Homo sapiens: one gene and its partners. The protein of the gene in region 1 purifies or fractionates together with the protein of each later gene. This does not show direct contact. Each region holds a gene or a part of one and is shown on either strand. Other genes may lie near its edges.

The links.
Region 2: the proteins of TMEM53 (region 1) and DHX32 purify together in Homo sapiens (affinity purification with mass spectrometry; one large-scale study listed by BioGRID and IntAct). This does not show direct contact.
Region 3: the proteins of TMEM53 (region 1) and CCNB2 purify together in Homo sapiens (affinity purification with mass spectrometry; one large-scale study listed by BioGRID and IntAct). This does not show direct contact.
Region 4: the proteins of TMEM53 (region 1) and RP2 purify together in Homo sapiens (affinity purification with mass spectrometry; one large-scale study listed by BioGRID and IntAct). This does not show direct contact.

What each region holds. Positions count from the first base shown.
Region 1 is NC_000001.11:44,671,678-44,676,024, forward strand, and holds the start of TMEM53 (transmembrane protein 53), read right to left. Parts: upstream 2,805-4,347; 5' UTR 2,715-2,804; coding exon 2,654-2,714; intron 1-2,653. UniProt on the Homo sapiens protein: Ensures normal bone formation, through the negative regulation of bone morphogenetic protein (BMP) signaling in osteoblast lineage cells by blocking cytoplasm-nucleus translocation of phosphorylated SMAD1/5/9 proteins.
Region 2 is NC_000010.11:125,850,234-125,853,803, forward strand, and holds part of DHX32 (putative pre-mRNA-splicing factor ATP-dependent RNA helicase DHX32), read right to left. Parts: intron 3,463-3,570; exon of another isoform or gene 3,011-3,462; coding exon of another isoform or gene 2,892-3,010; intron 2,410-2,891; coding exon 2,310-2,409; intron 2,219-2,309; coding exon 2,060-2,218; coding exon of another isoform or gene 1,913-2,059; intron 1-1,912. Other genes in the region: BCCIP (BRCA2 and CDKN1A-interacting protein), read left to right, coding at 2,892-3,010.
Region 3 is NC_000015.10:59,115,121-59,118,690, reverse strand, and holds part of CCNB2 (G2/mitotic-specific cyclin-B2), read right to left. Parts: intron 2,002-3,570; coding exon 1,765-2,001; intron 1,464-1,764; coding exon 1,323-1,463; intron 1-1,322. UniProt on the Homo sapiens protein: Essential for the control of the cell cycle at the G2/M (mitosis) transition.
Region 4 is NC_000023.11:46,878,537-46,882,106, reverse strand, and holds part of RP2 (protein XRP2), read right to left. Parts: intron 2,422-3,570; coding exon 2,338-2,421; 3' UTR 1-2,337. UniProt on the Homo sapiens protein: Acts as a GTPase-activating protein (GAP) involved in trafficking between the Golgi and the ciliary membrane.

The DNA of each region.
Region 1 (4,347 bases):
CAGCACTTTGGGAGGCTGAGGCGGGTGGATCACCTGAGGTCAGGAGTTCAAGACCAGCCTAACCAATATGGTGAAACCTTGTCTCTACTAAAACTACAAAAATTAGCCAGGCATGGTGGCGGGTGCCTGTAGTCCCAGCTACTTGGGAGGCTGAAACAGGAGAATTGCTTGAAGCCAGGAGGCGGAGGTTGCAGTGAACTGAGATCGTGCCACTGCACTCCAGCCTGGGCGACAGAGTTAGACTCCACCTCAAAAAAAAAAGTTTTTAAAAAGTAATTTCAGAAACTAAATATGAATGTCCTATACACTTCTCCACCATTAAACAGTAATTGCAAAAGACAGACAATCTCTGGGGCTCCAAAAGACTGTCACTCTATCAGGCCATGTTGGCCTGGAGGGAAGCTCTGCAGATAGGAAGCAAATGGATTCAGGGGACCACAGCGTCGTGATCTCCTTCTGAGGGGTTTGACAACCTCTAGCTCTCCTCTGGAGCATGGACTGTGAGAGGGAAGGGCAATGAATTAAAGCCAGTCAGGAGCAGCAATAAGGAGGAGAAACAACTGAAAGCCGTGGAGGTGTTTCCCTTGGAGGAAATGTGAAGGCACGAAGCTGTCCTCTTGAACAGAGGAAGAGAGATTCCTTGCTCTGTATCGTTCCCACCACAATGCTCTAGCCCTGCAGTTAGCACACCATTTTGAAACCACCTGCTTATAAATTCACTCCCCTCCCCAAAACCTCAGCTCCTTGGGCGTGTGAGTCACTTCTGAGTGGCCAACAACGATCCCACAGCCAGGACACAGCAAATACTGAACTGAGAGCGGAAATTACAGGAAGGCCTATTGTGGCTCAAGAAAGGGAAGTGCTTTCTAACAATCCCAGCTGCCTCCAACAGGCTAGAATGTTTGGGCAGAAGCATCGCCCCAGGGAAGGGTCTGCTAGCAATGGAATGCACTCATGCCAACAGAGGGAGGCAGGACAAAACAGTCTCTGAGATTTCTTCCAATTCTAAGACCCAGCCTCCTGGAGCAGCAAAGGGAGCCATGGGATCCGCCACTGCACTCCGGCCTGGGCGACAGGGGAGACTCCATCTCTTAAAAAAAAAAAAAGAAAGGGGGGCTGAGGGGGAACCACAGGGGAGCAATGCAATGGCAGCACCTGCACTGTGCCAGGGACACACATCCAAACGCTACCTCGTAACCCTCGCAATCCCACGAGGAGGTAGGCACTAGTACTCTTCCCATTTCACAGTGGAGGAATCTCAGGCTCAGGGAGGTTCAATAGCTTGCCAAAGACATATAACTTGTAAGACATGGAGCTGAAATGTGAACCAGGACCACGAGGCTGCCCTCCTGGCCGTGCAGAAGGCAGCTCCAACCCTTTGCAGCCGAAGACTCTCCAAAGGAAATAATATTAACTGACTTCATGGCTTGCTGACGCCAAAACGTGTCCAAAGTATTTTTACATCTATAAACCCAAAAGCGCTAAGCCAGCAGATCCAGTTCTAGGGAAAAACAGCTGGTCTGGGGCCATCTGTTCTGCGGGAGTCTAAGGGCTGCCCTCTCCTAGACTCCAACCAAAGAACATGAGATGCTACGGGAGGGATCTGGGAAGGCTCTCCTTAAGGAGGTAAGTTTTATGGAGAGCAGAGTATAAGATCAAACCTTTGCATTAGAAAGATCACTGTGGTAGCAGTTTAAGAGGCTGGGCTGCAGGCAGTGAGACAGGAGGCGTGAAGGCGATGCTGGACTAATGCAAGTGAGGGACACGCTGGCCTCAGGCTGATCATACTTCAAGGCCCTTCTGCCAGAATTCCCAGAGAGACCAAACTTTCCACTCTCTGGACCCCGATCTACTCACACTGTCATGGATGCGGGCCTGCTGTCAATCCTAATTTTGTGGAGAATCCTACATGTCTTTCTTTAATGTAAGGAGAGAAACAATGCTGATCGTAAATGCCAATTACTGAACTCACTCCATGCCAGGCCCTTTACACAATCTCCAGATGGCCCCAACAGCCCTATGAGGAAGGTTACTATCCTTATCCCGGTTTTGCAGAGGAGGAAACTGAAGTTCAGAGAAGGTAGCTTACCAAAGGTAATCCAGCTCCTAAAGGAAGGAGTCAGGATTTCAGTCGAGTTCTACCCGACGGCAGAGACTGCACTGTTAACCACTGCCGAGAAGAGTGGAGAGGGACGGCTAAGGGTTCTGAGTCCCGGGCTTCTGCGAGGATCGGTGACCCCGCGAGCCTCCCCCTCCACGCCTTCGGGAAAATAATAAGTGATAGGCTAGATGTGGGAAGCCCAATCCCAAACAAAGGAATCAGGAGGGATCCAGCTTTCGGCAGCCTTCAGCTATGAGAAGTGATTAAAGGGCATGGACCTGAGCACCCCGGACAGGAAAGACAGAAAAAGAGGTCCCAAGCGAGCAGCTGACTCGGGCAGAGGCGGGGCTCGCCAGGGAGGAACACTCTGGGGCGGGACTTACGAGGGGCGGGGCTCTCTGAGCCTCTCTAAGTCTAGGACCTGCCAGACCCTATGAGGGGGCGGCCCGAGGGAGGGCGGGGCCGCATGAGGGGCGGGGCTACAGCTGCGCTCGCAACCCACAGGTTCATGAGGTCACCTCCCCGCGCCTGGACCCAACCCTCATTCCATACTCTGGCTCCAGCAGGGCTGATCCGGGATCTCGATGGTGTAGTCCAGCTCTGCCGAGGCCATGGTGAAGGCGCCGGCCCAGAGCACGGGTCTCCAGCCGGAACTCCCGCTTGCGCACCCGTGCCTCACCCGGGCGCCTCCTGGGCGCCGCCCAATCACCACACACCTCCCCCAACACGGCCCAATCCCTGCGCCGCGCTCTGTGACCTCCCGCCTTAGCAACCACCGAGTCTCTTCCAGAGCCTCTCGCCTCACCCCACTAGCTCGGCCCTAGCAACCATGCCCCGCCCCTATTACTGACCCGCAGCCATTGGCTAATTCGCTTGATCTGGATCAGGTATTGGTCAGCCGGGGCGCCGGTCAGGAAGAGTCCCCACCCTCTCATGTAGGTGAGAGGCGGCTGAAGAGTTGCTGTATTCTGGGAATGGGCAGGGTCACTCGTCCGAACAGAGTCCTATCCTACGCGGCGGAAGAGTGTGCCCTTTGACTTGCATCGTCTACCTACCTCTGCCATCCTCTACCAGCCGCAACTGCGAGGGCTGGAGGTATAAAACCGTACAAAACGGCCTAGGGGGCGCGTGCCGACCCAACCTCCACCCAGTGGGGTTGAGGCATATTCTGGATGGATGGATGGATGGATGGATGGATGGGTGGATGGGAAGCAGTCTTCAGTTGATGACTTTAGAGAATGCCCTGTTGATAGGGCCCACCGAGGAGCTGGGAGTGCAACTTTCTTGCATTTATCTATATTTACATACTATGTGCCAGCATATTTACATACTATGTGCCAGAGACTGGGTGGGCTAAATAAGGTTCCTTAGGCCCTAGTGAGAATCAAGCTTTTGGCCCTCCCTCTCCCATGTCTTAACGGGAGAGGGAGAGAAACCATGCATGAAGCAACTCTGATTCTGCGTGTGAGATAAATACTACAGAAGAGTAAGGATTTGAGGAGCTCAGAATCAGAGAAGGGGCATTTATGGCAGTGGGGTTGGCTCTTGAGCTGGGCCTTGAAAGACTTTTAGAGATAGGGAGGGGGAAAGACTCTTTGCATGCCAGGCGCGGTGGCTCAAACTCGTAATCCCAGCACTTTGGAAGGCCAAGACGGGAGAATGGCTTGAAGGAGTTCAAGACCAGCCTGGGCAACATAGTGAGACCTTCATCTCTACAAAATTAAAATTTTAAAAATTAGCCAGGCATGGTAGCGCATGCCTGAAGTCCCAGCTACTTGGAAAGCTGAGGTGGGAGGATCACTTGAGTCAGGAGGTCAAAGCTGCAGTAAGCCATGATTGTGCCACTGCACTCCAGCCTGGGTGACAGAGTGAGACCCTGTCTCAAAAAACAAAACAAAGAGCCCAGTGTGGTGTCTCACCCCTGTAATCCCAGCACTTTGGGAGGCTGAGGCGGGCGTATCACTTCAGGTCAGGAGTTCGAGACCAGCCTGGCCAACATGGCGAAACCCCATCTCTACTAAAAATACAAAAATTAGCCGGGCATGGTGGTGCACACCTGTAATCCCAGCTACTTGGGAGGCTGAGGCAGGAGAATGGCTTGAACCTGGGAGGTAGAGGTGGCAGTGAGCCGAGATTGCTCCACTGCACTCCAGCCTGGGTGACAGAGCGCGACTCTGTCTCAAAAAAAAAGAAACATTAGTGCAGGAACTGGATTGAGGATTGGGAGAAGGAGGGAGACCAGTTAG
Region 2 (3,570 bases), on another chromosome or scaffold:
TCCCAAGGTGCCAGGATTACAGGTGTGAGCCACCATGCCCAGCCCTGCAGAATCTTTAATTCCTCTTTTCACCAGAGCCATCCCTGGCCTCTGCAGCCTTTGACTTTCTTTTCTTTCTTTCTTTTTTTTTTTTTTTTTTTTGAGACAGAGTTTTGCTCTTGTTGCCCAGGCTGCAGTGCAATGGCGCAATCTTGGTTCACCGCAACCTCCACCTCCTGAGTTCAAGTGATTCTCCTGCCTCAGCCTCCCAAGTAGCTGGGATTACAGGCATGCACTACCATGCCCGGCTAATTTTGTTTTTAGTAGAGACGAGATTTCACCACGTTGGTCAGGCTGGTCTTGAACTCCTGACCTGAGGTGATCCACCCACCTCGGCCTCCCAAAATGCTGGGATTAGAGGCGTGAGCCACTGTGCCCAGCAACTTTATTTTCTTCCTGCATTTTCCCCTGTTTTCATGAGGCGTTGCCTTATCTAACGTGCCATGCCTGTTTGTGTTTGGGTTCACTTTTCTTTTCATAATCCAAAGAATCATAGATCATACCAAAGCCAGTCATCTGGCTACTACCAAAATGAGTTCTGCCTCTGAATACAAAGATGACCTCTGGTGTAGTCTGGTACCTTTTGGCTAGTTTTTCTCCAAATTTCTATCTAGGTACCACTGCCTTCCCAGGGTAGCGGCAGTCTCAGGCCATCTGTTTCCACTGAAGTGGTCAGCTGGTCCTGAGGCCTCCTACCCCAATGGACAGTGACTGTGTCATTCAGGATGGAGGTCAATTGTCAGGCAGCCAAGGAAGAAAAATACAACTGATTTTTTAAAAAGAGGTCCAGATCAGGGGAATTCAATTAACAGCCTGTAGCCTAGTTATGCCAAATTCATTTTCACATGGTTCATGCATCCTGAAAAGGGTAACTAGTTTGCTGGATTTGCATATTTCAATTATAAGTTGAATTAAATGCAGCAGCTGCGAGCATCTTTTTCTTTTTTTGCTTCCAAAACAATGAGTCAGAATTAATCCACAGTTATATTTTCCCCAAGCACAGCAGAAAAGTTATGTGTGTATTGTCAGGAGACAAAAATAAATTGTTACCCTAACCCTTTTGTCCCCCAGTTATCAGCTTTAAGCCTCATGGAATGAGCAGCACAGAGGGTGACTATTGAGAGAACACAGTGAGATAGTTTGCTTTTAAAAATCCTTGACATCACCAAGCCTTCCTTTTCTTCTCCCTGCATTTCTAGTCCACCAAACATCTACTACCCTGAGCAAGAAGATGCCTAGGAAATCAACAGGTGGTGATTCCTGGGCTTATGAGATGAACAGTGGGACTGGAAGAGCAATTTTCAAAAATGAAACCTATCTTGTTGGGGCTCAGGACACACCACCCCAAAATATGACTGGAGGAGACTAGAATATGCCACCCCAAAATATACTTCTCTGGCATATTTTGAGCTGGTTATTCTGAGAAACTGCAGACATAGGACTAGCTCTGAAAAGCTGTCACTTTGTAAAAGAAATCTACATCTACAAAGGAAATCTACATTAATAAGTGTGGTGGCTTGCACCTGTGGTCCCAGCTATTTGGGAAGCTGTGGTGGGAGGATCACTTGAGCCTGTGAGGTGGAGGTTGCAGTGAGCTATGATCACGCCACTGTACTCCAGTTTGAGCAACAGAGCAAGACCCTGTCTCAAAAAAAAAAAAAAAAAAAAAGAAAAGAAAAAAGGACAATTCAAGCTGCTGAGAATTCTTCTTTCTGCTGATTCACCCTTACGCTTCCATACTCCACATTACCCAGCTCCTTAAGCCCAGTTCCCCTGTGCTGCAGTGTCCAACAGCAGACACATTTCTCGTGTCAGAACAGTTATTTCCTAGAGGTTTGTGGGGTTTTAAAAATTACCTTCAGAGAATGTTTACCTCTAGCAGGAAAATGCTTCAGTCCAAACCAACGCCCCCTCCATGCTTGTGTGCATTGCTGCGCATCATGTGAACTCAGGACAGAGAATGGGCAGGAGAAGGTGAATCTCAGCCTAATGCCTGGCTGACATGGGAGCATAAGGCTACCTGGTCTGTTCATGAAGTCACAGTGGCCTAGGCCCGCAATGTCTATCCTCTTCATAAAAAGCACCATGCTTGTTAGGTTGGCTTCCTGCATTTCTGCTGGCTTCAGTGGCGTCATGTCTTTGGAGGCAAATTCTTCAGTGTACAGGCAGAAAAATTTTCCTAAAAGACACCAAGAAAAATGGCTTTAATATTTCTGGGTTGCCTGCATACAAGAATTGACAACATTTAGTATTTGTGTCCACAGCACTACCTGAAGAAGATGAGCCAAGAATCTGCTTGCGTATCTCTGCCTGGCTCTGGCTGATGGGCTGCATGACGAGCGAGTTTGCTCTTATTCTCGGGTTGTACACCTTTAAATGGAAAGACAGCATCATTAGCGTCAGATAAGTCATGATTCAGTAGGCTCACTGATCCTGAAGAGAATATGCTGCGCAGTACTTTACTCCATGAAATGCACTGCCACAGACTCATTTTCTTTGCACGATATTTATTATTGTTTCACTTGCCTTGAGATGGAAACTGCAAGTGCTTTGATAAATGGATTTAAAGGTTGTCTGCTTTCATTGTGGCTTCAATAACTATGAGACCTTTGTGTCATCTGCTGAAATACTAGCACTGTCACTTCTCAAAGCACTGTACTGGTGAATGATAACATATGCTCATATGTCACACAGAGAAAGGGTTCTCACCTGATAGTGCCATGTTTCTTTATAGTTTTGTTCAAATCAACCAGGATCTTGGTGGTCTCACCTTTACAACACATACTGAGAGTTCCAATCATAACAGCTAATACAGAAACTGCGTATGGCACTAACAATGATTTTCCTTACAGGTGGTTCACGGGGGCAAGTGACAGCCCTGGTTTCTCTGAAGGCTGGACTAATTCAATCAAGATCAACTCTAAGTGATTTCCAGGGAACCTTCATGACTGTTGGAATTGCTCTGTCATAATAAGTCAGGGATATTTAGGAGGCTCATAGTCTCCTGGAGGGATAAAACATCTCGGCACCTAGTAATGGTAAATTAGTCAATATTTGTTAGTTTCGTTTGAGATCTCAAATGTTAGGATTTTCTGAAGTCTCAGTGTCTTTCAGAGTTTGAGATACCTTGTTTTCATTTTTTCTAATTTTTAATTTAAAAGTAATAAAGAATATTTTGTAATGATTAGGATGAAAATTTTATCGTCAATTATAAGCCAAAATTTGCTAAAATTAAAGTCAGTATACTTGAAACAAGTTTCTAGTAAGTTCTCTGGGGTAAGATACTAATTACTCTGATAAAGGGGCTATCAAAAAAATCCAGTAAATTGTTCATAAGAAGAGATCAGTTTAAGAGTCAAACAATTTGCTTTGCTAGTACCTTAGCTAAAGAAAAAATACTATTAAAGATGACTATCACCTTTATGCTCTAGTAGTTGAGTCTTCCCTCAAAACTTTCTCCTTTGGCAGCTCAATCAATTTAATTCATTTCCAAACCTCCAACATGCTAATGGAATCAAGACTTTTGTTACT
Region 3 (3,570 bases), on another chromosome or scaffold:
TTTTTTGGAGACAGAGTCTCGCCCTGTCCGCCAGGCTGGAGTGCAGTAGCACGATCTTGGCTCAAAGCAACTTTTGTCTTCCGGGTTCAAGTGATTCTTATGCCTAGGCCTCCAGAGTAGCCTGGATTACAGGCAGCTGCCACCATGCCTGGCTAATTTTTGTATTTTTAGTAGAGACGGGGGTTTTGCCATGTTGGCCAGGCTGGTCTCAAACTCCTGACCTCAGGTGATCTGTCCACCTTGGCTTCCCAAAGTGCTGGGATTACTGGCATGGCACCCGGCCAAGACAGCTTCGTATCCCCTAGGTTCTGATGAGGTTTTCTATTGTACTGCTCTCAGGGTATAACTGCAGACTAGAAGACTGTTTAGCGGTGGTCTAGAACTGGCTTCTCCACAACAGTGTACCTGTGACTTGCATTGCAGCCATCCAGCTCCATTTGTTTCCACATTATCCTTTTTGCCATGTGAAACAAAGACCCGAGGAGCTGCCATCCTTGGCTACTCTTCTAAATCTACAAGTGGCTCATTCTATTCTTACTGGCTAAATCAGTCAGGCCTTGGCCTTCCTTTGTCTTGTGTGCTTGACAACTTGCTTGTTTCACTTAACGTAATATCTAAGAAATCATACATGTCAGTTCTTAGTGGCCTTCCTCATTCTGTACAACTCTATACTGCACACATGCACCTTAGTATGTATAGTCAACTCACTTCTATGTGAACTGTTCCAAGCAGCTTGCTTGCTTTCTTTCCCAAGAGACAAGGGTCTCTCTGTGTTCCCCAGGATAGACTTGAACTCCTGGGCCTGGGCTCAAATGATCCTCCTCCCTCAGCCTCCCAAGTAGCTAGAACTACAAGCACAAGCCCCCATGCCCCTCTCCAAGTAGTTTTCCTTTAGGACTTTGGACTTTAAACAATTGCTTCAGGCCAGGCACTGTGGCTCACACCTGAAATCCTAGCACTTTGGGAGGCCAAGGTGGGCAGACTGCTTGAGCCGAGTTCAAGGCTAGCCTAGACAACATGGCAAAACCCTGTCTCTACAAAAAAATTTACAAAAATTAGCGAGGCATGGTCATGCATGCCTGTAGTCCCTGCTACTCGGGAGGCTGAGGTAGGAGGATTACTTGAGCCTGGGAAGTCAAGGCTGCAGTGGGCTGTGATGGCACCACCACACTCCAGCCTACGTGACAGAATGAGACCCTGTCTCAAAAACACAAAACAAAACCAACTGCTTCAAGGATAGTGTTGTAAAAATGCTAAGGCCTTTTGTATTACGAAGGACTAAAATATAGCCTAATTAGTTTCTTCTTAAATCCACCACTCACCCATTTTCCTTGTCCTAGAACCTTCTGAGACAAGCAGGAAGCAGCTGCTGCTACCTTAGAAGGATGATAATGCACCATATCATAGTCGATGAGAGTCAGCTCCATCAAATACTTGGCTAAAGTGTGCTGTTCAACATCAACCTAAGAAAGAACAGCAAGGGATAGTAAGAATCACAAGTGTAATTACTGTCTTGCAAAATTCTGCGTGAAGGCCTAGGAACTCCAATTCACTTGACTCACTTATCCTTCTCAAGAATTACTCTATTCCACACTATGTTGTAAACATAGATCATGAGGCCTTTTCTCTTAAGAACTGATGAGGAAAGCATTAAGACTTACCTAAAGGAAGCGTCCTATAAATAAGCTTTCCTTAAATTAGGTCAAGGTTTCTGGGATGAGACACCAAGCAAAAATAGTCTCTTACAGAGCTGGAGGCACTTACCTCCCCGGCTTTTGATGCTCGCCTTAAGAAGTGTAGTGGCAAGGGTCGACCCAACTCAAATTTCAATTCTTTCAAAATTAGAGTTTCCATTTCTCGGATTTGGGAACTGGTATAAGCATTGTCTGTGATGTAAACAAAGTCTTCAATATTTGGAGAAAACATCTCCTCATACTTGGAAGCCAAGAGCAGAGCAGTAATCCCAACTAATTGAAGCTTCTTCCGGGAAACTGGCTGAACCTAATGGAAAATTAATGTAACAAAAGTCACACCTAACAAGAAGAGTGAAGCTTTAGGTGGGAGAAGGGGAAAGGAAACCAAGTCCTGGAAAAGTGCACATTGTCTTTGCTCATAAGGGCACAGGAGACCTGACTGTTCTACCACTGATCATGACAGCTATCTGTAATTGAGCACTGTGTGCTAGGCACAGTGCTAAGATTCTAACATATTATCTCACCCAATCCTCATAAAAATTCTAGGAAAGGCATATTTTATTCCTCAATTACAAATAGATGTCCTGAGAACAGATTCAGACACCATGCCAAGATCATTCAATTGCCAAGAAGGGAAGAATCCAAGCCTGAATACCAAGCTCCTAGTCACCCTTCCCACAACCTCATGCTGACTTGAGTATCTGTGGCAGCCCTGGCCTGACACACTAAACATGGTCTGAATAGAAATGAGGCCAAAGAAAAAAGTGAGAATTTAATGGATGGCTCATTTCCTTAATCCTTACCAAAAGCATACCCATTATTCAGCTTAGAAAATCTTTCGCTAATGCTTTGGAGTCAGGCAGACTCTCAGGCTAGGGTAAAGCGTTTCCCTTAATTGCTTTTTTTTTTTCCTCCCAAACTCTGTACTTTTCTTGCTTCAACTCTCATTATTAAAAATCTACCACGGATGGGCACAGTGGCTCATGCCTATAATCCCAACACTTTGGGAGGCCGAGGTGGGCAGATCACTTGAGCTAAGGAGTTCGAGACCAGCCTGAGCAACATGGCAAAACCCCATCTCTATAAAAAAATCAAAAACTTAGCTGGGCGTGGTAGCATATGCCTATAGTCCCAGCTACTTGGGAAGCTGAGGTAGAAGGATTGATTGAACCCAGGAAATTGAGGCTACAGTGAGCCCAGATTGTGTCACTGCACTCCAGCGTGGGCAACAACAGAATAAAACCCTGTCTCAAAAAAATAAAAAATAAAGAAACCTACCTAAAATACTGTTGTGCTTTCCTGCCCAAAGAGGAATGCATGCTACCTGGGATTTTGTAGTATCTCAGGGTCATTATTGTAAAGTAATTTTTATTACATTGTTTGGACAGAATTTGTGCCTGACCTAAACCCCTATCCTGAATGTTGACTTTAAATAAATAAAACCTTATCTGCAGGGCTATTGTTTGGTAGATAACACACTGGCAATTTATATCTGCTGTCTCTTCTAACAGGTCAGGGGCTGTGCATTACCCACTCATAAATATGCTGAAGATTATGTTTGCCTCTTATTTTCTTATATTACTCTTTATTACACTACATTCTCAGTCCACTCCACACACAACCCCTGCTCCTTTAAAAAAAACAAATACTGCCACCTTCTTCTTCTACAGTGATTCAATGACATAGTTGGCTGGAAATGTGGAGGTTCTCCAGCCAAACTCATCGTTTTTCAGATGAGGAAACTTAACACCAGAGCACCAAACTATGGAAATTGTGCAAGCAGGCCCAGAAAACCAGCATCCAAAGGCACTACAGGCTTCAGATGGACTTTCAGCCCAACTGATGGTATATTTCCTCTGATGAAGGATTGTGGCAA
Region 4 (3,570 bases), on another chromosome or scaffold:
TAGAATTATAGAAACAACCATAGCACTACTTATTTTTTAAAATCGTTTCAAACATTCAGAAGCCAAATGACTGTCCTTAAAGACAAATTAAATGGGTAAAAGGTCTTATCTAACAGAAGAATACAAAATTTTAAGCTTTGGTTAATAGATAATAAGTGTAGTGGAAATTTTTAAATTAACATCTCCCTTATATGTTATATTCCTGAGTTGTTGCTCAAATATCATAAAGAACTTAGTTTATAGCTTTATATAACATTGCATTTTATTTTTGAAAAACAAAAAGTATTGTTATTATTTGAAATGTGAATAATGGTGTTTAATAATATCATCATGGCCAGGCGCGGTAGCTCACACCTGTAATCCCAGCTCTTTGGGAGGCTGAGGTGGACGGATCACCTGAGGTCAGGAGTTCGAGACCAGCCTGACCAACGTGGAAAAACCCCATCTCAACTAAAAATACAAAAATTAGCCAGGTGTAGTGGCGCATGCCTGTATTCCCAGCTACTCAGGAGGCTGAGGCAGGAGAATCGCTTGAACCCAGGAGGCGGATGTTGTGGTGAGCCGAGATCGCGCCATTGCACTCCAGCTTGGGCAACAAGAGTGAAACTCCACCTCAAAAATAATAATAATAATAATAATAATATAATCATAACAGGATGGAGTCCCTTTAATTTAGCTTAACTAAGGGAAAAACTAATGCCGTCTGACCACTATTTGCAAAGATCATTTGTAAATTGTGATCAAAATTATATTAAATCTGTCACCAACTTTTATTTGCACCTTATGAAATCATGTTGATTTTGTAGTATTGAATGCCCTTATAAAAGAATTGAAATGATGCAGTGCTAATGGTTAGCACAAGGCCACGCACAGGGTGAGCGCTCAATATTACTAATTAATTTAAAGTGAAAATCTTTTAATGTATTATTTCTGCACCTTAACATGCAATTCAATGTAGTAGTTATTAACCCAAAAATATCCAAAAACATTTTAAACATGAAAATACATTTTAGTAACAATCATAGGAATGTTTACAAGTGGTTATTTTCAGTCTTAGTTTTATCAAAATAGAATTAAATTTCAGATTCCTTTTAAAAATAGGCCTATGAAAGCTGATTTCATAATAGCTGCTATATGTGATGTGGATGGCAGATTCAGTGCCTTCTCACAAGTTCAACCTATTGACACCTCCTGAACCAATTACTTTAGATTACAACATACCCCTTAAAACAGAGTTTCCCCTGAAGACTGAATCCGTGCATCTGAGGATTGGGTCCAAGAATGTGGATTTTTAAACAAGTAGCTCTCCTCTGCTTCCTGGTAAATTATTATGATCAGGTAGATTTGGGAAACAGTGCTTTAAAGCAACCAAAATAATTTTATCATACTTGAACATTACTTGATATGAATGGCATATCTAATGAAAAATCAAATGTATCAAGCTTTTTAATAATCTGCATAGCTTATCATCATGCCTATTTCTTACCTAAAAGTCACAAGGTTTTGTTCCAATTCTCTTGATAGCCCACAAGAGCTAATAAAAGTTATCACCTTTTTAAAAACTGCTGGTGATTGGGCTTCTACAGTTTTAGCATTGCATATACCTTTTCTTATCAGGAAGCAGAAGAGTCATATAGCAGTTGTATTAAAAAACTAAACAATGTGTAATTTATTCAAATAATCATACTACTTACGAAGTAGTCTTTAAATAGCTATACCAACATCTGTTAGTAGAGTTACTTGCCAAGCTGGTTATCAAATGCCTATTTCTTTAAAAAATTCAATTTACAAAGTATTATGTCAACTCCATGTACAAAATCTCATTTGCCATATAATGCAACTAGGAAGCAATTATATAACTGGATATGTGTACATAAAAATGTGCATAGGTTCATTCTAATTGATCGACTAGTAACAAATCCCTCTAAATTGAAAAAGGTAAAATAAGCAATGATATGGAGTCTCAAAAAAAGTATCATGGAGCACTGAGGAAAGTTTAAATTATTAGAGATTTGAAAGAACATTTAAATAGGATTAAAATAATAAACTTTTAGCTACTTCTGTTTTCTAATAAGAATATCATATGCAGAGAAACAAAACTGCAAGCTTATTAAAATGGGTTAAATAGCTTTTAAGCTGATTAAAACTACTTAATTTAAAATGAATTATTTTTGAACCTCAAGTAAATGATGTAATACTCAACAATTTATTAAAAAATAAACTTTAAAAGTTTTAGCATTAGTAAAAACCATTGCTAATACACAAAAGTGTATTATCAAATTCTATATTCACAAGTTGGGAAAGGCTTAATACCAAGTCCTGGTTCCACATTGCACTTCATATTCCCATCTGTATATCAGCAAAGTTGTAGAAGCTGTCTACATCTCCAGATGCCGTCTCCTTGCTTTCAGATACAAACATCTATTTTAAATAGAAAATTAAAAAAAAAAATCAGTACCAAGTACTTCAGAATGCCAAAGCCCATGTTCTCCACAGAACAAAGTTCCAAGCTAATTATTCAAAAGAAGTTCAAGTACATCATTTATAATGACAATATTTAATCTGTAGATTTTCTTTAGAATTCATGTAATACACTTTGAATAGCTATAATGTAAATTAAGCTCTTTTGGAAGCACTTATATAATTAAGGTCTCTGCTTTCATAATACTTGAGTTGTATTTTATTACATCTGGACTTTTACAACACTCAATATTACGGAAGCTACTGAATAAGAGTCACTTAAAAAACTCTTTGTTTCTTCTATTTTCTAATAATAATCTCAGTAGTCTGAGCAGCAAAACTTGAGATTATCCCTTTCAAAGCTGCTAAAGATATATTATTATTTTTTATTTTATTTTATTTATTTTTGAGACAGAGTCTTGCTCTGTTGCCCAGGCTGGAGTGCAGTGGTGCAATCATGGCTCACTGCAGCCTAGACTTCTGGACTCAAGTGATTCTCCTGCCTCAGCCCCCCAAGTAGCTGGTACTAATGGTGTGTACCACCATGCCTAGCTAGTTTTTTTTTTTTTTTTTTTTTTTTTTTTACTTTTTGTAGAGTCTCACTATGTTGCCCAGACTGGTCTTGAACTCCTGGGCTCAAGCAGTCTTCCCGCTTCAGCCTCCCAAAGTGCTGGGATTACAGGTGTGAGCCACCACACCCAGCCTGTTATTTTTAAATAAACTATCTGCTAAACATCAATGAAGCAATACTCAATAGAACCCTTCTAAAGTAGCTTTTACAAATGTCAGCAAGGAATTAGAGCAGATGTGGGTTCTATTCTAGCTTTATCGTAAACTAGCATATGATGCTGACAATTTAATAAACCTCTGTGGGCTCAGTAACTACACCTGTAAAATGAGAAAGCTGGATTAGATAATCTCTAAATCATTCAGCTCTAAAAGTCCAAATTCTAACCATTTTATCTCTCAGTTTCCTTTTCTATTCAACCTGGTATTTTCCCTCTCCCTTAGTACTACTGTGATGATAAAATGAGATCAAAGACAAAGTACTTTAATTTTTGTAAATTCAAGGAATCATAAGCCAAATCAGATGATAAAACCAAAATGTCC